Linked DNA regions of Homo sapiens: all the other regions are linked to region 3. Evidence: fine-mapped expression QTL. A gene starts in region 3. Each other region holds a variant in brackets. All regions are shown on one strand. Distances are between the middles of the regions. Region 1 overlaps ZNF573 (zinc finger protein 573). Region 2 overlaps SIPA1L3 (signal induced proliferation associated 1 like 3). Region 3 holds the start of ZFP30 (ZFP30 zinc finger protein).

What was found. PIP is the estimated chance that this variant, and not a neighbour inherited with it, causes the effect. A credible set is the group of variants that fine-mapping cannot tell apart.
Region 1: its variant is the best candidate, but not a certain one, in a credible set for the expression of ZFP30 in whole blood (INTERVAL, PIP 0.77).
Region 2: its variant is the best candidate, but not a certain one, in a credible set for the expression of ZFP30 in non-classical monocytes (Schmiedel 2018, PIP 0.54).

The regions. Positions count from the first base shown.
Region 1 is chr19:37,761,344-37,769,526 of GRCh38, reverse strand. The region is part of intron 4 of ZNF573 (zinc finger protein 573); the gene reads left to right. Among named protein-coding and RNA genes, the nearest start is that of ZNF573, 14 kb to the left of the region's middle. The variant C/A (reference allele first, on the strand shown) is at 3,471.
Region 2 is chr19:37,910,303-37,918,485 of GRCh38, reverse strand. The region is part of intron 1 of SIPA1L3 (signal induced proliferation associated 1 like 3); the gene reads right to left. Among named protein-coding and RNA genes, the nearest start is that of SIPA1L3, 7.2 kb to the right of the region's middle. RefSeq lists enhancers at 1,866-2,731, 2,732-3,597, 7,466-7,515, 7,646-7,715. The variant TTG/G (reference allele first, on the strand shown) is at 4,460.
Region 3 is chr19:37,651,301-37,659,483 of GRCh38, reverse strand. It overlaps ZFP30 (ZFP30 zinc finger protein), which reads left to right and starts at 4,019. Exons shown (of 6, transcript NM_001320669.3): 1 at 4,019-4,064; 2 at 4,605-4,772. RefSeq lists enhancers at 3,414-3,463, 2,863-3,850 and a silencer at 3,874-4,063.

The sequences.
Region 1 (8,183 bases), 110 kb before region 3:
CTTGAACTCCTGACCTCGTGATCTGCCTGCCTCAGCCTCCCAAAATGCTGGGATTACAGTTGTGAGCCACTACACCCAGCCTCGTTTTTCTTTAGTGCAATATTTTACCTGTATTTTGGACTCAACTGTTTTTCCAGCTCCCCTTTTGCACACACACACAACACACATATCAATGTAGTGATCATGAGGAAGACATGTAAGGTCCTTATCCTCATGGAAATTTACATTGTACTAAAGAACACATAAAAATAAACAGGTAGGCTGGGCGCAGTGGCTCATGCCTGTAATCCCAACACTTTGAGAGGCCAAGGTGGGTGGCTCAGGAGGTCAGGAGTTCAAGACCAGCCTGGCCGGTCTTGAATGGTGAAACCCCGTCTCTACTTAAAATACAAAAATTAGCCAGGCATGGTGGCAGGTGCCTGTAATCCCAGCTATTTGGGAGGCTGAGGCAGGAGAATCGCTTGAACCCAGGTGGCAGAGGTTGCAGTGAGCCGAGATCACGCCATTGCACTCCAGCCTGAGCGACAGAGTAAGACTCTGTCTCAAAAATAAAATAAAATAGGCCGGGCGCAGCGGCTCACGCCTGTAATCCCAGCACTTTGGGAGGCCGAGATGGGTGGATCACGAGGTCAGGAGATCGAGACCATCCTGGCTAACACGGTGAAACCCCGTCTCTACTAAAAATACAAAAAAATTAACAGGGCATAGTGGCGGGCGCCTGTAGTCCCAGCTACTCAGGAGGCTGAGGCAGGAGAATGGCATGAACCCGGGAGGCGGAGCTTGCCGTGAGCTGAGATTGCGCCACTGCACTCCAGCCTGGGCGACTGAGAGAGACTCCATCTCAAAAAATAAATAAATAAATAAAATAAAATAAGCAGGCAAACAACTACTATTAGGCAGTGGAATAAGCAATGGTAGAAAGTAAGCAGAGGTTAGGCCATTTTGGATGAGATGGCTGGGGACAGCTTCTTTGGGGCAGTAGTATTTGGAAAGAGACATGGTATAAGGTCACAAGCCATGTGTTTATCTGGGGAAGAATATTCCAAGCTGAATAAAGAGCTTAGAAGGCTAAGGAGATGGCTGAAGCATTGGAGGGAAGGAGTATGGATAGTCAAGGGAGGGTAATAGAGAGAGCTATGTGAGTTTGAGGAGCACCAAAGTAGACCAGAATAGAGATCCTAAGAGGAGAGTGACGAGAAATGAGGTCACATTGTTAGGCGTAGTCAGATCACATGAGGTATTGTTGAATTTGAATTTTTGGGAATAAGAAGGATTAGAACCAATGATGTAATTGTTTTCAAGGCATTTTTAAAAACATTAGACAGATTCAGAGAACAACATATAACACATGAGTAGCTTACTGAGTCTTACAAGTTAAACAATCATGTCACCACAGCCGTGTCAGGAGTTAAAACTTAAAAATTTTTTTTTATTTTAATATAATTTTAGAGTTACAGAAAGGTTATAATAATGACATACAAGATTATTTTATACCCTCCAAGCAGTATTTCTAAACAAGGAGAGAGTTTCTAGTTGATTCTGAAGTCCTCCACATGTCTGCAACCAGTCACAATCTCCTTCCTCCTGCTAAGTGTAACCACTATTCTGATTTTAATGGTAATAAGTTCCTTCCTTTTATTTTTTCTCCAATTTCAAGTCTTTTTAAGTTTTCGCAAGTCTCTAAGTTTTGTCTTCATCTTTCTTTGTGTTCTTAACCCCTTATTTGCTGAAGAAACATCTTCCATTCTATTTTTTGCTGATGCCATCCCTGAGATTTGCTTAAATATGTTCTCTGACCCCTCTATATCCTCTAAATAAGTAGAGGGGTCAAGAGGCTTATGTATCTGAGTCCAGAGCTTATACTGCTCACTGCACAACAGCCAGTAAGTCAAGAGGTAAGGTGTTAGGGCAAGGAACTTTATTTCAGAGAGCCAGCAAAGCGAGAAGATGGCAGGCTAATGTCCTAAAGAACCATCTTAAAAGGCATGAATCTCTGCCGGGCATGGTGGCTCACGCCTGTAATCCCAGCACTTTGGGAGGCCGAGGCGGGCAGATCACAAAGTCAGCAGATCGAGACCATCCTGGCTAAAACGGCGAAACCCCGTCTCTACTAAAAAAAAAATACAAAAAATTAGGTGGGCGTGGTGGCGGGCGCCTGTAGTCCCAGCTACTCAGGAGGCTGAGGCAGGAGAAGAGCGTGAACCCGAGAGGCGGAGCTTGCAGTTTGCCGAGATCGCGCCACTGCACTCCAGCCTGGGTGACAGAGCGAGACTCCGTCTCAAAAAAAAAAAAAGGAATGAATCTCATGCCGTTTTTTATGTTGGCGAAGGGGGAACTAGGAGGAGGTTGAGGTCAGGAGGTGACTGGCGACTACAGATATCTGGGTGTCAGCAGGGGTCCGAGAAGGTTGCACAACGTTGTCCTCGGTCAGGTCACAATGCTCCTATAAATCTTTAACATAACGTTGTTACTTGTATGTACACCCTCCCTATCTCCTTGAGAATTATTAATAGTTTTGGAAAGGGATTATTATCCTTGCTTTAAAGTTATAGTATAAATTAAATACTCCCATAGTTAACTTGGCCAGCGTGCAGTTATGAGCAAACGCCATTAGCTTGTGAGGTTAGAAGTAAGATGGAGTCAGCTATGCTAGATTTATTTCACTGTTACACTTAATCGATTTTGATTCAGTTTATTTTATTTATTTTATTGCAAGACAACTTCCTGGGCAGTATTGTATGCATCATATGTTGGCACTTTTCCTGCTCCCCTCATACCAGACAGAGCTGGGCTTATGGTTTACTGTGTTAAAGGAAAACACCACCTCTGAAGAGCTTTATATAGTATCTCAGAGGCAGAAGGGCAAGGATGGCTTTTACTGAGAATTAAAAGTTTGGTTTAAGGCTGGTCTTCATGCGGGGACTTGATTAGGATTAGGTAAAGATGAAGACACCACAGTGGAGAATTAGTGGAAACAGCTAGGTTAGAATTTTGAGGTTAGGAATTGAAAATTTTCTAGAGTACAAACTGTTGATGTTTGCCATTTAAGAGTTGATGGATCTTTCAGGAACTTCCAGTAATGAACAATGAAGCCATTTGCCTTTGCAAGAAACTTCCAGAACAGTAAAATTGTGCTGAGGAAAACAGTGGGATGTGTTTATGGAGAGAGTAAGCTACCTGTAGGGGGATTGGTAGGTCCACTTCTCTGTTTCAAGGCTGAGTGTGGGAGTGAATGGTTTAGGTTCTCAGCATAAACCTTCTGGTTGTCTCTCTGTGATTTTTAGCAGTCATTTATGCTCAATGCCTGGATGTATTAATTCATCAGACATTCCAAAATGGTCATATTCTAATTCTAACATTTATTTTTCATTTATTATGTACAAATATAAACAATTTTTTACATCACCTACTATTTGGTAACTACTGATACCATTTGGAAAATAAAGGCTGATCAATATTTGGTCTTTTCT[C/A]TTTTCTTTTTTTTTTGAGATGGAGTTTTGCTCTTGTCGCCCAGGCTGAAATGCAATGGTGTGATCTTGGCTCATTGCAACCTCCACCTCCCAGGTTCAAGCCATTCTCCTGCCTCAGCCTCCCAAGTAGCTGGGATTACAGGCATGCACCACCATGCTCGGCTAATTTTTATATTTTTAGTAGAGAGGAGGGTTTTGCCATGTCGGCCAGGCTGGTCTCAAACTCCTGACCTCAGATGATCTACCGGACTCGGCTTCCCAAAATGTTAGGATTACAGACATGAGCCACCGTGCCTGGCCCCTAGGATCCTTCATAGGTAACTAGACAGTTTTTGTTTTTGTTTTTGAGACGGAGTTTTGCTCTTGTTGCCCAGGCTGGAGTGCAATGGCACAATCTCAGCTCACTGCAACCTCCGTCTCCCAGGTTCAAGCGATTCTCCTGCTTCAGCCTCCCGAGTAGCTGGGATTACAGGCACGTGCCACCACACCCAGCTAATTTTGTGCTTTTAGTAGAGATGGGGTTTCTCCATGTTGGTCAGGCTGGTCTCGAACTCCCGACCTCCCGTGATCCGCCTGCCTCGGCCTCCCAAAGTGCTGGGATTACAGTCATGAGCCACCACTCCCAGATTTAGACGGTTATTTTATTGCCAGCCTTCTCCCATCTGATATGACAAAGTGTTGCAGGCTTATCTTGTACGTTTCCTGTACCAAGCCTTTAGTCAGCCATAAGTTTGTGAACTATTGGGTTCTTTTAGTGGGAAATGGTATTTTAAGGCCACAGTCTAGCCTCTAGAAGTGCCCATTTTTCTTGGTTGAAGATTGTTATAGGCTTTTTACCAGTTAAAGATAGAAAAATCTGTAAGTGACTGGGTGTGGTGGCTCACGCCTGTAATCCCAGCACTTTGGGAGGCCAGCCTGAGGTCAGGAGTTCAAGACCAGCCTGGCCAACATGGTGAAACGCCATCTCTACTAAAAATACAAAAATTAGCCAGGCATTGTGGCGGCTACCTGTAATTCCAGCTACTGGGGAGGCTGATGCAGGAGAATCACTTGAATCCAGGAGGCAGAGGTTGCAGTGAACAGAGATCATGCCACTGCACTCCAGCCTAGGCGACAAGAGTGAAACTCCGTCTCAAAAAAAAAAAAAAAAAAAAGGCCGGGCACAGTGGCTCATGCCTGTAATCTGAGCACTTTCGGAGGCCAAGGCAGACGGATCACGAGGTCAGGAGATCGAGACCATCCTGGCTAACACAGTGAAACCCCGTCTCTACAAAAAATACAAAAAGTTTGTCGGGCGTGGTGGCGGGCACCTGTAGTCCCAGCTACTCGGGAGGCTGAGGCAGGAGAATGGTGTGAACCCGGGAGGTGGAGCTTGCAGTGAGCCAAGATAGCACCACTGCAGTCCAGCCTGGGTGAAAGAGCGAGACACCGTCTCAAAAAAAAAAAAAAGTGACTCATGCCTGTAATGCCAGCACTTTGGGAGGCCAAGGCGGGCAGATCACGAGGTCAAGAGATCGAGACCATTCTGGCCAACATGGTGAAACCCCGTCTCTATTAAAAGTACAAAAATTAGCTGGGCGTGGTGGCACTGGTCTGTAGTCCCAGCTACTAGGGAGGCTGAGACAGGAGAATTGCTTGAATCCGGGAGATGGAGGTTGCAGTGAGCCGAGATCGGGCCACTGCACTCCAGCCTGGTGACAGAGCGACACTCCGTCTTAAGAAAAAAAAACAACAAAAAAAAAAAACAAAAAAAAACTCTAAGTATACATATATGTATGTGTTTACATATTTACATAAAAATAAATTACCTAATGAGTTTATATGGCAACTTCCTGGCCAAACTTAGAACTAAATGGTGTTTAATTGAAATTTTCTGTCTTTGATCTGTATCTCTTATTCCTTAGTACCAATTCTCCAATACTCCAGTGATGATAAAATTAAAATACCATGCAAGTATTCATTTCCTTTATTCTATTTTTTTTTTTTTTTTTTTGAGGCAGAGTTTCGCTCTTGTCGCCCTGGCTGGAGTGAAAAGGTGCGATCTTGGCTCATCGCAACCTCTGCCTCCTGGGTTCAAGCGAGTCTCCTGCCTCAGCCTCCAGAGTATCTGAGATTACAGGCATGCGGTACCATGCCCGGCTAATTTTGTATTTTTAGTAGAGATGGGGTTTCTCCATGTTGGTCAGGCTTGTCTTGAACTCCCAAACTCAGGTGACCTGCCCACCTTGGCCTCCCAAAGTGTTGGGATTACAGGCATGAGCCACCATGCCCAGTCATTTCCTTTATTCTTTATGACACATAAAACATTCTTAGAACATTAGTAACAGCTTTACTACCTAAATGATTACTGAAAACAGTTTTTTAGTATGCCCAGTCTCCTCCCAATTTTTAGTTTCACTGTAATCATATTATGAAATATATAGTCATTGCATCATATGCTTTCTCCCTTATGACTGATATTTACTCTGTTTTTTTTGTTTTGTTTTGTTTTTTTTGAGACAGTCTCACTCTGTCGCCCAGGCTGGAGTACAGTGATGGATCTTGGCTCACTGCAACCTCTGCCTTCTGGTTTCAAGCGATCTTCCTGCCTCAGCCTCCCAAGTAGCTGGGATTACAAGTGTGTGCCACCATGCCTGGCTAATTTTTGTATTTTTACAAAATACAAAGGGTGGTCTCGAACTCCTGACCTCAAGTGATCTGCCCACCACGGCCTCCCAAAGTGCTGGGATTACACTCTTGAGCCCCGGTAACTGGCCCTGATATTTACTCTTAACCTAAGTATATATTTATAATATATATATATATAACTATAGTTGTTCTTGGGTATTTGGTGCTCAGCACCCTGTGGCATGGCTGCAGTGATTCATGCATATGAGACAGCCTTCCAGGAGCTCTCTTTTCCACAGGTGCTAGAGCTCAAGTGCTAGGAAATGAGATCCACACGGCAGGAGTGTGGGCCTCCCCTGACTTAAGAAGACTGGTTTGGCTGGGCGCGGTGGCTCATGCCTGTAATCCCAGCACTTTGGGAGGCCAAGGCAGGTGGATCGCTTGAGGTCAGGAGTTCGAGACCAGCCTGTTCAACATGGTGAAACCCTGTCTCTACCAAAAACATAAAAAATTAGCCGGGTGTGGTGGTGCATGCCTGTAATCCCAGCTACTCAGGAGGCTGAGGCAGGAGAATCACTTGAACCAGGGAGTCGGAGGTTGCAGTGAGCCGAGATCGCACCACTGCACTCCAGCCTTGGTGACAGAATGAGACTCCTTCTCAAAAAAAAAAAAAAAGACTGGCTCCAAAGGTTGGTACAATATCTGGTGTGAGGATTCTTTAGTCATCGTTTCCAGGGTCTTTCAAGGATATGCTCTTTTAAAAAGAAATGTAGTCAAAGAAACCCTAAATATGGTGTTCTCTTCATCTAGCCCCTAGTCCACAGTCCGAGGTGCAACTTGCCAATCAGGGTCATTGTTACCATAAATAATGAAACTTATTAACATAGTTGACACATTCTGTTTTTAGGGAAGCAGCATTGGAGAGTTAGCCTAAGAGTACATCCTCATGCAGAATGGGATTCCCATTCTGTTTAATGTTTAATTACAGAACATTAGAAAATGTTTTGTTAACCCTTTGCCCACATTACCCAAGTGATTTCACAATTCTCTAAGAATATTATCAAATATACAGTCCACATCCAAATTTCTCCCAATTATCCCAGTAATGTCCTTTTATAAATTTTAAAATCTAGGATCAACTGAAGGAACATCTGTCATACTTACTCACCAAATCTATTTAATATCCTTTAATTCAGAGCATCTTCCTTCATGAAATTGACATCTTTGCAAAGTCCAGTCCACTTGATTTCTTTTTAGAATGTCTACAATCTGCAATGTATTATCACTTCCTTATGATTAAATTCAAGCCCAACATATTTTGAAAAATTGCCCCCAGGTGATGTTCTATTCTTCCCATTGTATCACATGAGGAGACAATAATAGTTTGTTCCACTGGCAATGCTAATATTATAATTTGGTGAAATAAGAATTTGTGCCTTAGGCAATGCTAATATGATATAACTTGTTTGAGATGCTTTTCATAATTGTATCTGTCCGGGCCAAGGAAAAACTTCTTTTTCACCCTCTGAAGTTTCACTGAAAATCACTGACAAAAGGCAGATTGAGAAGAAAAGGCATACAAATTGATCTAATCATACTTTTTCATGACACAGGAGCCTTTAGAAAGAAGATCCAAAGGTACAGGGGAAATTACCTATTTTTATGCTTAGGTTTAACAAAGTATGGACAGCTATGTAGAAACAGGATTGGGCAAAAAGGGTGTGATCTAATGCTAATAGCCTGAGTAGGGAAACCCAGCAAGGCCTGTCTGTCTAGGTTCTTCTTGGCCTCTCAGAACACGTATTCCTTCCTTCCGGAATGGGGGACACTCTCTGGAATGGGGGTCTTATGACCAACAGTCAAACAAAGTAGGCCAGGGAATTTTTTATGGCCAGTTTTTACCCAAAAAGGCAGGGGAAAGTTAGAGTAATATTTTTAGGTTTTATGAGTAGCTCTGGGGACAAGGGGTTCTGGTTTCCATGACTTGCCTTGGGGAAGAGGGCTTCTAGTCTTTATGGTTAGCCTAGGGGGAGAATGGGACTGAGAGACAGGAGGGCAAGAGAAGGTCCGAGAAAAAACTTTTGCTTCTGAGGATGCTTTGCGGAC
Region 2 (8,183 bases), 260 kb before region 3:
GAGATTGAGACCATCCTGGCCAACATGGTGAAACCCCATCTCTACTAAAAATACAAAAATTAGCTAGGTGTGGTGGCGCGCACCTGTAGTCCCAGCTAATCGGGAGGCTGAGGCAGGAGAGTCACTTGAACACAGGAGGTGGAGGTTGTAGTGAGCCAAGATCGCGCCACTGCACTCCAGCCTGGTGACAGAGCAAGACCCTGTCTCAAAAACAAACAAACAATCAAACAAACAAAAAACAAAGAAATGAGCTTTCAAACACGCCAAGACCTTTCCTTGCCTTCCTTAGTCCCCCTGCTCACCCTCCTCCCAACTCCCCAAAGACCCCTCTCTTTCCTGGGAGGTAAGGTTCCAGGTTCCAGCAAACCTAGAGGTCAATTTAAGGAGTGGACCTCTCAATCATTCAGGTCTCAAACCAGCACACCGACACCAATGTAAACCCAGAGATTAATGCTGACAAACTGGGACTTCTTTTTTTTTTGAGACAGGGTCTTTCTCCGTCACCCAGGCTGGAGTGCAGTGGCACAATCACGGCTCACTGCAGCCTTGACCTCCTGGCCTAAAGCAATCCTCCCACCTCAGCCACCCATGTAGCTGGGACCACAGGCACAAGCCACCATACCCAGCTAATTTTTTAAATTTTTGTAGAGGTGGAGTCTTGCTTTGTTGTCCAGGCTGGTCTCAAACTCCTGGGCTTAAGCAATCCTCCTGCCTGGGCCTCCCAAAATGTTAGGATTACAGGTATGATCTTCTACGACCGGCCTCAGAATCGATTTTGTGCAACAAGTCCCTCCTATGGTTTTCATTGCTCAAAACTCAGACCCTATCCCCCTTAAACACCCTCCAATACAGCATATAAAACAGGTTTAAAAGTATACACTCTGCACCTGAGCTCAAATGCTGCCTCTGCCACTTCCCAACTTTGAGCAAGTGACCTCTCATTGCCTTATCTCAGCTTCCTCATCTGTGAAATGGGAATAACTGTAGTCCCTGGCACCTCCGAACACAGGCAACACCCACCAACACTAAGCACAGTGCCAGGCACATACAGCAAGTTTGATGGACAGTAGCTCTTTGGTTAGCTATAACTGCTTGTGATAAACCTGCTTTTCATCATACATCTGCCCTTCTCCGCCAAGATAAAACAGGAGTGGCATGTCAGATCTATCACTGAACTACCACCTTTGATTTACACGTGAATCTCATACCCTCGGCCAGTGCTGTCCGATGTGGTAGCCATTAGCCACATGTAGCCACCGAGCACTTGAAACATGGCTGGTACCAACTGAGATACGCTGAAAGTGTAAAATACATATTGTATGTCAAACGCTTAATGTGGAAAAAAGGAAGTAAAATAGCTCACTAATAATTTCTATATTGATTACATGTTGAAATGATGTTTTAGATGAAATAAAATATATCATTAAAATTACTTTCCTGCTTCCTTTTACTTTTCAAAATATGGCTACTAGAAAATTTTTAATTACCTATATGAGCCTCATCAGTGACCCACATTTTTTTTTTTTTGAGAAGGAGTCTCACTCTGTTGCCCAGGCTGGAGTGCAGTGGTGCAATCTTGGCTCACTGCAACTGTCACCTCCAGGGTTCAAGTGATTCTCTGCCTCCGTCTCCCGAGTAGTTGGGATTACAGGCACATGCCACCAGACTCAGCTAATTTTTGTATTTTAAGTAGAGATGGGATTTCACCATGTTGGCTAGGCTGGTCTCGAACTCCTGAACTCAAGTGATCCACCCGCGTCAGCCTCCCAAAGTGCTGGGATTACAGGCATGAGTCACCGCGCTCGGCCCCACGTTATATTTCTAACAGACAGCACTGTTGTGGGCTTTTGAGAACCAGTGTCTTATTCAACTTTATACTGTCAGTGTCAAGCATGGACCCTGACACACAGGGTAGGTGAAGAAATGTTTCACAGATGGACAGATGAAAGATGCTCTCCATACTTTCAGTCTTTTTTTTTTTTTTTTTTTTTTAGACACAGAGTGGTGTGATCATAGCTCACTGTATCCTTGATCTCCTGGGCTCAAGGTGTGGTAGTGCCTGGGCTCAAGTGATCCTCTCACCTCAGCCTCCTGAGTAGCTGGGATTATAGGTGCACATCACCAAGCCTGGCTAATTTAAAAATTTTTTGCAGAGATGAGGTCAGATGCGGTGGCTCACGTCTGTAATCCCAGCACTTTGGGAGGCTGAGGCGGGAAGACCACCTGAGGTCAGGAGTTTGAGACCAGCCTGGCCAACATGGTAAAACCCCATCTCTACTAAAAATATAAAAATTAGCCGGGTGTGGTGGTGGGCGCCTGTAATCCCAGCTACTGTGGAGGCTAAGGCAGGACAGTCATTTGAACCCAGGAGGCAGAGGTTGCAGTGAGCTGTGATCATACCACTATACTCCAGCCTGGGCAACAGAGTGAGAACTGTCTCAAAAACAAAAACTTTTTTTTTTTTTGCAGAGTTGGGGTCTATGTTGCCCAGACTGGTCTTGAACTTCTGGTCTGAAGTAATCCTCCCACCTCGGCCTCCCAAAGTGCTGGGATTACAAGCCTGAGCCACCATGCCCACCCAATATTTTTAGTCTTAAAAGCACCCACTACTGTCCTCACATCTAACCAGGGCTACCCTTCATTCAAAATACGCCCACGCTACAGCAAATCAAAGTGCACACAGGTCATGATGCCGGAGCAGGGACCTGGGGCCCTTACAGGTCCAAGAATCATTGTCTTAGTTGATGGGCTATAGTATGATACTTTAACAGCCCACATGGCTAGTGTGCTTAAAACACCATTTCCAGCTGGGTGCATGGCTCACATCTGTAATCTCAACACTTTGGGAGGCTGAGGCCGTCGGATCACTTGAGGTGAGGAGTTGGAGACCAGCCTGGCCAAGATGGTGAAACCCCATCTCTACTAAAAATACAAAAATTAGCTGGGAGTGGCGGTGGGCGCCTGTAACTCCAGGTACTCAGGAGGCTGAGGCAGGAGAATCGCTTGAACCCAGGAAGCGGAGGTTGCAGTGAGCCCAGATCACACCACTGCACTCCAGCGTGGGCAACAGAGCGAGCCTCTGACTCAAAAAAAACAAAAACAAACAAACAAAAAAAAACACCTTTTCCAGCCAAGTCCCAAGTCCCCTTGCAAAGCTCACCCAAAGGAGACACCCTGCTCCCTCTCCTTGGACACTACACTTTGTTTCATGCTAACCTGTGCCTGGTATGGCAACCAAGCAGTCAACCTTGTTTTACTTGACAGGCTCTGCTGGAGGGTCTTTAGTTTTGAAACCACCACCAAACCATCCCTATCGTGTCTCATTGAGAGCAAAAATGATGCCACAACATCCCAGGCGGCCCCTGCTGCCACATCAATTAGGTACTAAATATAGTCTAAAGTGCTTTGCATGTCAAACAACAAGGAAAGGAAATGCTGTGTCCACTTCCTCAATTTGCCTCTGCCTGGTAAGGAGGGCCCTGGAAGAGTTTAGAATGCAGGTGAAGAGCATGGAGGGTGGAATCAGTTTCCTCATCTGTAAAATGAGTTTGATCAAGTTAATTACTTCACTGGACTACTGTCAGGATTAACTGAGGAATGTGTGAAATGCTTAGAAAAGCATCTAGCACAGAGTAAGCACCAGGTAAGCTGCTATCATTATTATTATTTTATAAAAAAGTAGGCCAGGTATGGTGGCTCGTGCCTGTAATCTTAGCACTTTGGAAGACTGAGGGTGGAGGATCACCTGAGCCCAGAAGTTCAAGATCAGCCTGGGCAAAACAGGTCTCTACAAAAAATAGAAAAAATGTGGCCGGCTGCAGTGGCTCACACCTGTAATCCCAGCACTTTGGGAGGCTGAAGCAGGCAGATCACCTGAGGTCAGGCGTTTGAGACCACCCTGGCCAACATGGTGTAACCTGTCTCCTCTATTAAAAGTACCAAAAAAAAATTAGCCAGGTGTGGTGGCACATTCCTGTAATCCCAGCTCCTTGGGAGGCTGAGGCAGGAGGATCACTTGAGCCCAGGAAGCAGAGGTTGCAATGAGCTGAGATCATGCCACTGCACTCCAGCCTGGGCGACAGAGCAGACCCTGCCACAAAAAAAAAAAAAATTAAAGTAGTATCAACTTGAAAACTAGGAATTAACTCTTCTCCAGTCAAACTGATACTCTTTGTAGCAAACTCACTCCCACCTCCGGGCCTTAACACTTGCTGTTCCCTCTACCTGGAATGTTCTTTCTTCAACTTTCGGCATAGCCAGTGCCACTGCTCATTAAGGTATCAGTTCACATGACTCCTCAAAGAGGCCTGGGAGGCCTTCCCTGACCATCAAAGCTAAGGTAACCACCGCCATCTTGCCCCATCAGCCATTTGCTCTCCACTTACCCTGTTAAATTTTCTCCATCACAGTTAAAACTATCTGAAGAGGCAGGATCAGGATTTTTTTTTTTTTTTTTTTT[TTG/G]AGACGGCCTCTCACTCTGCCGCCCAGGCTGGAGTGCAGTGGTGCAATCTAGGCTCACTGTAAACTCCGCCTCCTCCTGCCTCCTAGGTTCACGTGATTCTCCTGCCTCAGCCTCCCGAGTAACTGGGACTACAGGCGCCTGTCACCACACCTGGCTAATTTTTGTATTTTTAGTAGAGACGGGGTTTCACCTTGTTAGCCAGGATGGTCTCGATCTCCTGACCTCGTGATCTGCCCGCCTCAGCCTCCCAAAGTGCTGTGATCACAGGCGTGAGCCGCTGTGCCCAGCCAGGATTTTTTTTAATTAAAAAAAAAAAAAAGAAAGAAAAGGCTGGGCACAGTGGCTCACGCCTGTAATCCCAGCACTGTACAAGGCCAAGGTAGGCAGATCACCTGAGGTCAGGAGTTCAAGACCAGCCTGGCTAACATGGCAAAACCCCTCCTCTACTAAAAATACAAAAATCAGCAGGGCATAGTGGCGCATGCCTGTAATCCCAGTTACTCAGGAGCCTGAGGCAGGAGATGGGCTTGAACTTGGGAGGCAGTGGTTGCAGTGAGCTGAGATTGTGCCAGCCTGGGTGACAGCGAGACTCCATCTCAAAAACACAAAGTGAAATGATCCTGTTTATTGTGTGTCTTCCCGGGCTAGAATGGCTAGAATGTAAACCCTAGGACAGCAAGGATCTTGTCTGTCTTGTTGACTGCTGAATCCTCAGTGCCTAGGATAGGACCCTGGCTCACAGCAGGGTCTCAACACATCTGTCAACTCAATAAAATAAGAATAGTAGCTAACTGCACAGGGCTAATGACAGCCTAATGTGCTGAAAGTCTTGCAGACATTTCATTCAGTCTCCAGCGACCCCCGAGGTAAAGACTACTATCATACCCATTTTGCCAATGAAGAAAAAAGCTCAGTGCACATCTTACAAGTTAGTGGCTATACTGTGATTTGAACTTGGTCTGCCCGCCACCTAAGCCACCTTCCAACCATGGCACACTTCTCGCAAATATGAGGAGTGATATTTCCCACTGATGCTCCACCACCAGCCCCTCACCCCCACCACCCACTGTGGTCAGGGCACTTTACTGGCTCCTGTCTTCCTGGGCAAATCTCCTCCCTTCTTTCAGCGGCAGCTGGATCCCTCACCTTAGGCCCCCAACATCTCCAAGCGGGATCCCTGCAATATAACTTTTTCTTATTTCTACCTGGTGTTTCAAGTGATTGAGTTGGCTCTTCCTGTGAATTTCTCTGGGTTTGAAAGAACACATGTAGGCTGAGGCGGGAGGATCATTTGAGGCCAGGACTTCGAGACCAGTCTAGGCAACATAGTGTGAGACCCTATCTCTACAAAAATTTAAAAATTAGCTGGGTGTGGTGGTGCACACCTGTAGCCCCAGCTACTAGGGAGTCTGAGGTGGGAGGATCACTTGAGCCCAGGAGTTCAAGGTTACAGTGAGCTATGATGACGCCACTGCACTCCAGCGTGGGCAACAGAGTGACCCTGTCTCTAAAAAAAAGATCACAGCTGGCCCTGCCCTGAAGGCTTGACATAGATAATCTTATGAAACCTCTCAACAACCACCCTATAAGGAAGACACTGGTATCATCCCCATTTTCAGATCAGGACACTAAGGCTCAGAAGGACACATGATTTGCCCAAGGTATCACAACTAATATAGGATAGAGTCACAGTGTGAACCCAGACCATGTGGCCCCAGAGTTTGTGCTTCAGCCACTGGGCCATGCTGCCTATGTGAAAGGATACTTTTTATACTTTTTTTTTTTTGAGACAGAGTGTCACTCTTGTCACTCAGGCTAGAGTGCAGTGGTACAATCTCGGCTCACTGCACCCTCCACCTCCCTGGTTCAAGCAATTCTCCTGCCTCAGCCTCCCAAGTAGCTGGGATTACAGGCTCTCATCATCACACCCTGCTAATTTTTTCTTTTTTTTATAGATGGAGTCTCGCTCTGTCGCCCAGGCTGGAGTGCAGTGGCACAATCTTGGCTCACTGCAAGCTCTGCCTCCCAGGTTCACGCCATTCTCCTGCCTCAGCCTCCTGAGCAGCTGGGACTACAGGCACCGGCCACCACGCCTGGCTAATTTTTTTGTATTTTTTAGTAGAGACGGGGTTTCACTGTGTTAGCCAGGATGGTCTCGATCTCCTGAGCCACCACCAAGGATACTTATTAGATGTGTGTTTGCTGAGGTAAAGAAATCTCAGAGGGGCCAGGCGCGGTGGCTCACGCTTGTAATCCCAGCACTTTGGGAGGCTGAGGTGGGCGGATCACGAGGTCAGGAGATCGAGACCACGGTGAAACCCCATCTCTACTAAAAATACAAAAAATTAGCCGGGCGTGGTGGCGGGCGCCTGTAGTCCCAGCTACTCGGAGAGGCTGAGGCAGAGGAGAACGGCGTGAACCCAGGAGGCGGAGCTTGCAGTGAGCTGAGATTGCGCCACTGCACTCCAGCCTGGGCGATAGAGCAAGACTCCGTCTCAAAAAAAAAAAAAAGACATCTCAGAGGAACAACCTAAAGGACCAGCAGTGGGGGAATGCTGGAATAAAGCGTGGTCTCTCTGCACTGAAGAATGTGGGTACAGCTGTTGAAAAGGATAAGCCAGATCTATATGTAATGACTTGGAAGGACATGCCCAGCCATTAATTGAAAAAACTGGGTTACAAATAGGTGTAGCTTGATCCCTACCCCCTCCTTTTTTGGGGAATGGTATGGGAGGAGGAAGAAAACAGTCGATACACACACACACACACACACGCACATACATACAAACATAATCAATATAAACACAGAAAAAGATAACTGAAGCATCTGTCCAAATCACAAGGGCAGAGAGCACATCCATTTTGTTCATTATGCTATCTCCAAAGCCTAGCAATAGATACTTAATAGATACTCACTGTCTGAATAAATGGTTATCTCTGGCGACATGGGGTTTTGGAGTGGAGGGTGGCACTAGGTATTTTCCCTACACCTCTGTATTGTTTGACACGTTACAACAAGCATGAATTTCTTGCATAACTTTTTTTAAGCTAAATTCAACCCAATCACATACATACACACACGCACAAAAGGTCATGACCAAAATAGTCCTTAAAAAAAGGAAGCAATAGGCCAGGCACGGTGGCTCACGCCTGTAATCTCAACACTTTGGGAGGCCAAGGTGGGTGGATCACCTGAGGTCAAGAGTTCGAGGCCAACATGGCGAAACCCCATCTCTACTAAAAATACAAAAATTAGCCAGGCATGGTGGCATATGCCTGTAATCCCAGATACTCAGGAGGCTGAGGCAGGAGAATCGCTTGAACCTAGGAGGTGGAAGTTGCAGTGAGCTGAGATCGTGCCACTGCACTCCAGCCTGGGCCACAGAGCAAGACTCTGTCTAAAAACAACAAAAAGGAAGCAATATCAGTCTTGAAGAATACACAAATGCACAAACTGGTACAACAGCCTCTCATTCTTTTTTTTTTTTTTTTTCTGAGACAGGGTCTCACTCTGTCACACAGGCTGGAGTGCAATGCTGCAATCACAGCTCACTACAGCCTCAACATCCCGGGTAGCTGGGACTAGAGATGTGTGCCACCACACCTGACTAATTTTTTGTAGAGATGGGGTTTCGCCATGTTGCCCAGGCTGCTCTCAAACTCCTGGGCTCAAGTGATCCACCCACCTCAGCCTCCAAAGTGCTGGGATTACAGGCATGAG
Region 3 (8,183 bases):
GGCTATAGGAGAATGAAAATTCAAAATTATTTCAAAATAAAAAATATGTCACATTGAGTTTTAGGAGTGTAAATTTTTTCCTATGTAAATATTAGCCAAAAACATATTAAGAGACCTTCATATTTTATGAAGTTATGGTACAAGAATTAGTTTCATTATTTTCATTCATTCAACTGTAAACACATTTATACATTCTCTTGTGTATCTGTAATTTTTCAGAATTAATTTTAAAAAATAATAATTGGGCTAAAAAAGGAGTGAAAATACTGAAACAGCTAGAGAACATCTCTCAGCAAGTTGGAAGTTAAGACCAAGGGTTTTTTTCAGAATACAACCTGATGAATTTGAAAGGAATAGAAAACTGTAAATAAAAAGGTAGAAAATACACCCTGAGAAGTCATCAGAAGAAACTGATAAAGATAAAAGTGGAAATTAATGAAACAGAAAACAAAAGCAGTAACTAAAAGAAATAAGCTGGTGTAAAAAAAAAAAGTCCGGTACAAGCAAAATCTTACTTAAAAGAGTAATGAAAGGCTTCTCCATAAACAGAGTAAGTAGATGCATTGATTTCCCATTTCTCCTCTGCAAAAAAAAAATATTAAAATGAATATATTAAGTAAAGGAATATAAAAAGTATTAACATGTAAGAACCAAAGAAAATGAGGAGGGAGACTGCAAAAACAAAACAACAACAACAACAAAAAAAAACGCACACACAAAAACAGGAGAACTGTCCAAGAATTCTGGTATGAAAGGGCTTAGGAGTCAGATTTCTATTAATGAGGCAATTCAATGCATAAACCCCTGGAAGCTCAGGCACCAAAGAGCATGACCCTGGAGAGATGTGGATCTGGAAACAGGAGATTGGTTGAAAGTTTGAACACAAACTGGCTGTTCACCTTTTTTACTTTTCCTCTCTTATGTGATCAAATACACTAAATTGGGGTAGGGGGGTGATCTGTGGATAAAATGACCCAGAGAGGATGTATACCTGCATAAAGAAAGACAGAACTGAGTCATAGGCAAACTAAATGAAAAACTACACTCAAAACTGGGGGCCTCTGAGAGGTCTTTGAGGTCTCAGACATCACTAACTCACTGTCCTCAAAGGAGGAACTAAAGAACAGCTCACATCTCCCAATGAAACGGCTGGCTCTGAAGTCAGGTTGAGAAGATTCACTCCATGACTAGAGGCAAGGATTACCACACATTTCAGGGAAGTATCCAGTATAAAAAGAGAACAATTCAAACTTTTTTGTAAAGGGGGAATTTGATTTGGATATAAAAGACAAAAATAGATTAAAAAAAAAAGCACCAGAAAACTTTAAACTAATTGCCCTCTGAGAGATTAGAGGTTTTATTGCATCCATAATAAAAACGAAAGGCTATGAAGAAATAAAAATTACAGAATATAAAGGAGCTCTTGGAAATTAGAAATGATTATCAAATTAAAAATAAATACAATTGTACTGTAAAGTCAACAAAATTTCCCAAAGTAAGAGAAAAAGAGAAAAAATAGGAGACAAAACATACAGCTCATGAAAAGTCCTTCCATGAAATACAAATTCCAGGACAAGAGAACAAAAATTCAGAAGGATAGAGGACTGTCAAAAAAGAAAAAGAGGAAGAAAAATGTTCAGACCTATAAAGTGCTGCCCTATAACTAGCAGAAAAAAATGTTTAAACATACATGCCAAGTGCATAAATTATGAAATGTAAGTGCATTGTGGATTACAGGTGGCAATAGGTATCTGGGCGTTGGTGGGAGTGGGACATGAAATTAAAAAGGAACAGAAAACAATTGGTATTAGACTTGACAACATTAGCTACTAGAACACTGTGAAGTGACGCCTCCAAATTCTGAATCTAGGCAAAGTGTGAAGGCAGAATAAAGACATTTTCAGGCCCAGCGCGGTAGCTCACGCCTGTAATCCCAGCACTTTGGGAGGCCTAAGTGGGCGAATCACCCGAGGTCTGGAGTTCGAAATCAGCCTGGCCAACATGGTGAAACCCCATCTCTACTTAAACTATAAAAAAAAAAAAAAAAAAAAAAAAATGGCCAGGCGTGGTGGTGCACGTCTTTAATCCCAGCTACTCGGGAGGCTGAGGCAGAAGAATCGCTTGAACTGGGGAGGCAGAGGTTGTAGTGAGCTAAGATTGCACCACTGCACTCCAGCCTGGACAACAGAGTGAGACTCCGTCTCAAAAAAAAAAAAAATTTCAAACATGAAAGAACTAAAAAACATCTTTAATACATGCATCTTAAGGAACTTATTGGAAAAGAACTTTAGCAAAAATTAGCTGAATTCTAGGAAACAAGAATCAAACTTAGGAAAACAATGACGGTAAATTTTAGGACAACTGTACAGTCCAATTGCAGCCACAGAATGGAAGAGAGATTCTACTCCGATGTTTGAACCACTGAAAAAATAATCGATGAACATTTAACATATCTGTTGGAACATTTCTAAAAAATAGCAACAAGTACAAAGAAAACCAATAAATCCTTGATAAACAAACTCATGTAAGAAATGTACTTGGTTTTAAAGAGAAAATAATTGACGTAATTAGTACATATACTCCACATATTCACTTAACCAAAACTTGAGATATCTGGAAGAGATCAAGGAGAAAGAAGAAAGTTTTAAATATTTTAAATGAAGTATTACAATGAACATTTTTATTACTAAAGGTATTTTTAGCTACGAAAATGAGGCTGATCTTTCAACTAAAGATCAAAGAAACTTACTATCCAAGAATGCTTGGAGACATTGAATTTATCCAAGAGTTCATCCAGGAACAAAGGGGAAAAAACAAATCTCATTTGTTAGAATATTCCAAGACCAGGTATGGAAGAAAATAAAATGCCTCTCCCTCCCGTTTCATGGTGTCCTATTCAATTTTCTGACACAGTCCTACAATTCCATCATTTGGAAGTAATAGCAACCTTATTCCTTTCCAATTTTTTTTCCTGCAATTATTTTACTTGCCTAACACCACAGTCCTGAGGGCACACAAGGGCCAGATGCAGATAATCAAAATCCCAACACTCAGTTTCATAGGGACCCACAAACCGTCTCCATGGAAAACCAGAACCAGAAGCGCTGCCCTATCAGAAGGATTCTGGAAATAACGCTGGATGAGGCAGAGCCACAGTCACAGATCCGATGTCAGGTACGTCACAAACGCAGACACAAACCGCAAAGACCCCAGAGACCCGCTACAGCCAGCGTCAGAGTCAGGCACCACCGCGCAGCCTTCTCTGCGGCACCATCCTAATCCCCCGCTAGAGAACGGCACACGCGCACGCAGCAGCCCCGTGCACGGAAACACTACTCCGCCAGCGGCCAGGCACTCGGTCCAGGTACGCGGGGGCGCGGCGGCCGTCACTCAGCAAACACCACAGGCAGCACGCGCCGCGCCTTGGTCCAGGCTCGCGATACTGGGGTTTCCTCCATCCAACTCACGCCAGGGTCACGGCTACAGGCCTAGATTTGAACACTCCATCCCCATCGGGATCCTGTAGCCAACCTCCACCCTCCTCCAAACCTCCCGACCCCTCGGCAGGTGCGGCCCCACACTTCTCCCTTGCTCCCTGAAGGGCCCCAGCGTTCGCCCCCCGCGCGCTTGCGCACTCGAGGCAGAAGCCGATTTCCAAAGGTTCCGGTGAGGCGTCGCTGGGGGCGGGGCGGGGCTCGCAGCCTCCGCCTGTCTCCGAGCCGAGAACCAAATGAAAAATAAAAAGGCGGAATATTGTTTTTTTAAATTTTGGACCGCAGTGTCCACAGGGGAGCAGGCCTGGATTATCTTTAATGGCACTGGTCAGTCACGGGGCGGCCATTACAGGTAGAGGCCTGAGGCGAGGGACACTGCGGCCCCTCTGGCTCCGTCTCCCCGGCCCGACTATCCCCGCCGAGACCCGGCCCCACGCGCCCCTCCCGGCCCGGAGCAGCTGCGGGACTTGCCTCCGCCCCCCCGCGCGCTAGCGCATTCGCGACGGAGACAGGCGCTCTCCCGTATTCTGGCGCCGCTGACTCCCAGGGCTGGGCTATCCTCTGAGTCGGGTGAGGCTGGGGCTGGGAGCCGGGCGCCACTGTGGCCGCTGCTTTTCTGAGGGAAAAGAGCGCGGAGTGGGCCAGGTTTTGCAGGCCGGGCCAAGGTGGAGAAAAGGTTCCTGTGGAGCCTCAGGCCGGTGTGCTTTTTTTCCCGGGACTGAGCTTCTGCAGCCCTGAGGCCTGGAGGCCCGGGCGGTAGTAACTGTGCCGGACCAGGTTCGTGGGTGCGGCCTGTGGTGCAGTTGGAGACCGAGGCCCCGCGCATCCTCGTCCGCGCTTCAGCCACTTAGGCTCGGCCGTAGCGAAAAGGCCCAAGAGGGAAGTCAGAGGTGAACGCCCCAGGATGAAGGTCCCCTGCAAAACGCTGGGACCTAGATTTGGGGTGGGTGTCTGGGGTCTAGGAGGACACGCTGGACAGTTCCGAAAAGACACAGTGGGTGGTCCCGGGCGTGGGCAACCGGGTGCGGAACTACAGCGTACCCGGAGCTGCGAACCCAGACGCGGGTGACTGCTGACCCTCTGCCCTGTCGTTTCCATTTGTGCATGCAGGTGGCGGTTAGTTGGGGCCAGGGAAGCGTGGAGGGTGGGTTCCAATCGAGTCAAGAAAAGCCTGGGGTGTCCTGAACTCTGCCTGCTTCCCCAGCCCTGCCAGTTTCCAGAGAAGGCGCTTGAGAAGGAGAAACGAATCGCTGCTGCTCTTCTAAAAGCCGGTTCCCTGTGAGTTCGTGCTGCTGCTTTGTTTCTGTGAAATGCATTCGAGTTCCTTCCGTTTAAAATCCTGCTTAGGAATGATCTATTTATTCATTGATTTGGGCCTTAGGATTTCCCTACCTAGTTAACGGCAGGGGACCTAATTAATAGATTTCCCGTTGTTAGTGCCCACTTCATGCTGTTCTATAGTTAGACACATGGTTAGTTAACTGTAGGCTGCAAATTCAATTACTCTGTGAGCGCTGTTTTTCTAAGGATCTTGATGATATGGAAATACCCGTGCTGGAGATTAATGTTCATACTTTGTTTTTATTTGTTTTTTAGGGTTTAGATATGTTTAATGGTTCTGGGGTAGGAGTGGAGATTTCTTTTTTTCCAGGAAATTCATGAGTGGAAGTTTTTGGTACCAGCCAGATGTGGTTTGAGGTCTGGCAGCATGAGTTTATTTTGGGTATATCTTGGATCGACTGAGGGAGGTGTAGTGTAGTGGTTAAGAATTTCGAGCCTAGATTAAGTGGAATTGAATCCTGACTGCCACTTAAATCTGAACGAGTTTAAGCAATCTGTGCTTCAATTTCCTCAGAATTGTAATAGTGTATACTTTACGGTGTTGTTTTGAAGATTACATGAATTAATATTTGTGAAGCTCTTAGGAGAGTGCCTGGCACATAGTGAGTCCTTAATTCATACTAGCTACTGGTATTAAAATGATGATGCTCAGTCATTTCCTATCAGCTTTGTGTATTTCCAAGACCAATGCAAATGTGAAGGTAATTATGATGGATGCTTGCAAGCAGGAAAATGAGCCAGACCCTGCAGTGGACCAGAACAGGGATTGGTAACATAAGTCCTTGGACTCTGTTTATGAGCTTTCAGGGCAACAAAGATATTTTAAGATTATATACAGAATTGTTGTATGTATTTGTAAATGGTTAATTTTTTCAGTGGAGCGAGGAAGTCTATCATTTCATGGTATTATCAGAGTTGTATAAGCTCCAACAACATTGATTCTCACTGTCTAGAAATGAAATAACTGGTAATGACTTTCGGGATGTTCTTTTATAAAATTAATATCTAGCAGTATGGAAATGGTTAAATCACACTCCATGTGATGGAATGTTATGCAATAATAAGAATTTTGTTTATATTTAGTCATAAGAAAAAAGTATAATGTAATATTGAGAAGTATTGTTGTAAATAAGAATCATCAAGAAATTGTTACATATGAATCTTGTATACTACAATAAAGGTTTTTAAGTTATTTTGCAACAATGTAATATTTAAATATTAAATTGCTAGGTATTTAATGATTAGTTATTTATTGGAGCTGAGGAGGGGTAAATGCAAGTTATTAAGTAGCTGCTGTGAAATGAGCATTTGTTTTTGTCTGCAGTTCTTACTGGCTCTTAATCACTTTGGAAATGACATGAACCAGGATTGTAATCCTTCACAGAACTATTTCAGGGTCTTGATGAGATACAATACTCAGGAACTGGTAGAAATTATTTTTTCAGTCACACTGATTTCCCTGTTGTCACCATTTATGCAGGGCCTGTTTAATCACAATTTTCTTTTTTCTTTCTTTTTTTTTTTTTTTTTGAGACGGAGTTTTCGATTTTGTTGCCCGGGTTGGAGTGCAATGCCGAAATCTCAGTTCACTGCAACCGCTGCCTCCCGGGTTCAAGCGATTCTCCTGCCTCAGCCTCCCAAGTAGCTGGGATTACAGGTGCCCGCCACCATGCCAGGCTAATTTTTTGTATTTAGTAGAGACGGGGTTTCACCATGTTGGTCAGGCTGGTCTTGAACTCCTAACCTCAAGTGATCCACCTGCCTCGGCCTCCCAAAGTGTTGGGATTACAGGCGTGAGCCACCGCACCTGGCCCACAATTTTCTTAATGACTGTAAGGTAGCCTATCTTCCCAGTCATTTAAAATTTTTTGGAATAGCTTTTTAAAATATTTCTGATGACAGAATTAATACAAGCTTGTGAAATATTAGTAACTACGGAACCTATAAAGAAAATTAAAATGATCAATGGTCCCAATGTCCAGAAATAATAATTATTAATGTTTTAGAGCATATTTTCCCAAAATATTTCTACAAGTCTGTGTGGTTTTGTGTGTGGTTTTATTTATTTATTTATTTTTTTGAGGTGGAGTTTCGCTCTTGTTTCCCAGGCTGGAGTGCAGTGGCGCGATCTTGGCCCACTGCAACCTCCGCCTCCCGGGTTCAAGTGATTCTCCTGCCTCAGTCTCCCAAGTAGCTGGGATTACGGGCACCTGCCATCACGCCCAGCTAATTTTTTGTATTTTTAGTAGGGACAGGGTTTCACTATGTTGACCAAGCTGGTCTCGAACTCCTGACCTCAGACAATCCACCTGCCTCAGCCTCCCAAAGTGCTGGGATTACAGGTGTGAGCCACCGTACCCGGCTGGTGGTTTTCTCTCTGAAGAACAGGCTAATACTAATTGCAAATTTAAAAGAAACTAAGACCTCTAGTTCTTAGTTTAAAAGAGGAATTCAGTGCTCTTGTGGATTATATGACTCCATGGATGTATGGAGAAAAGTGACATCCCAGTGATCCACTTCTGGTTTGACAGACCTTCCAAATATTTACAGTTCTTCAAATTATGGAAATTTCAGTTAAGTTGAGATTTAAATCTGATTTTAAAATTAATTTTAAAATCTCAGAATTGAAATTTTAAGAGTTTTTTTCATCTGTTCAAGTCTGTTTCCCTTTAATGGTCTAAAAAATCTAATCATATATTGTTTTGTAAACTTTTTTTTTCTTTCAGTGTATCTTGAATATTTTCCTTTCCTTAACTGTTTTCTAAAATTTAGCATTTAGTGATTACCTTAGTATTCCATTTTATGGATGTTTTGTAAATTTTTTAAGAAATGACTTATTGGACAGGAATATTCCAAACTGCCCAAGCAATTCCTTCAGGAGGATTTCTGGCTCCTATGACTTGATCAACTTTTCACCTCAGAGTCATGTGAATTTCAGAGTTAGGCATATTTAGGAATTGACTTTTGCCAGGTGGGATACAGGTATTTGAAGTATTTGACTGTATTTCTGAAGGATTGATTTTTCATTCTTAGAATATAAAATAGACAGCTGTGCTATTTTTTTTTTTTTTTTGAGATGGAGTCTTGCTCTGTCGCCCAGGCTAGAGTGCAGTGGCGTGATCTCGGCTCACTGCAACCTCCGCCTCCCGGGTTCAAGCAATTCTCCTGCCTCAGCCTCCCAAGTAGCTGGGACCACAGGCACATGCCACCATGCTCAGGTAATTTTTTGTATTTTTAGTAGAGATGGGGTTTCACCGTTTTAGCCAGGATGGCCTTGATCTCCTGACCTCGTGATCTACCCGCCTTGGCCTCCCAAAATGCTGGGATTACAGGTGTGAGCCACTGTGC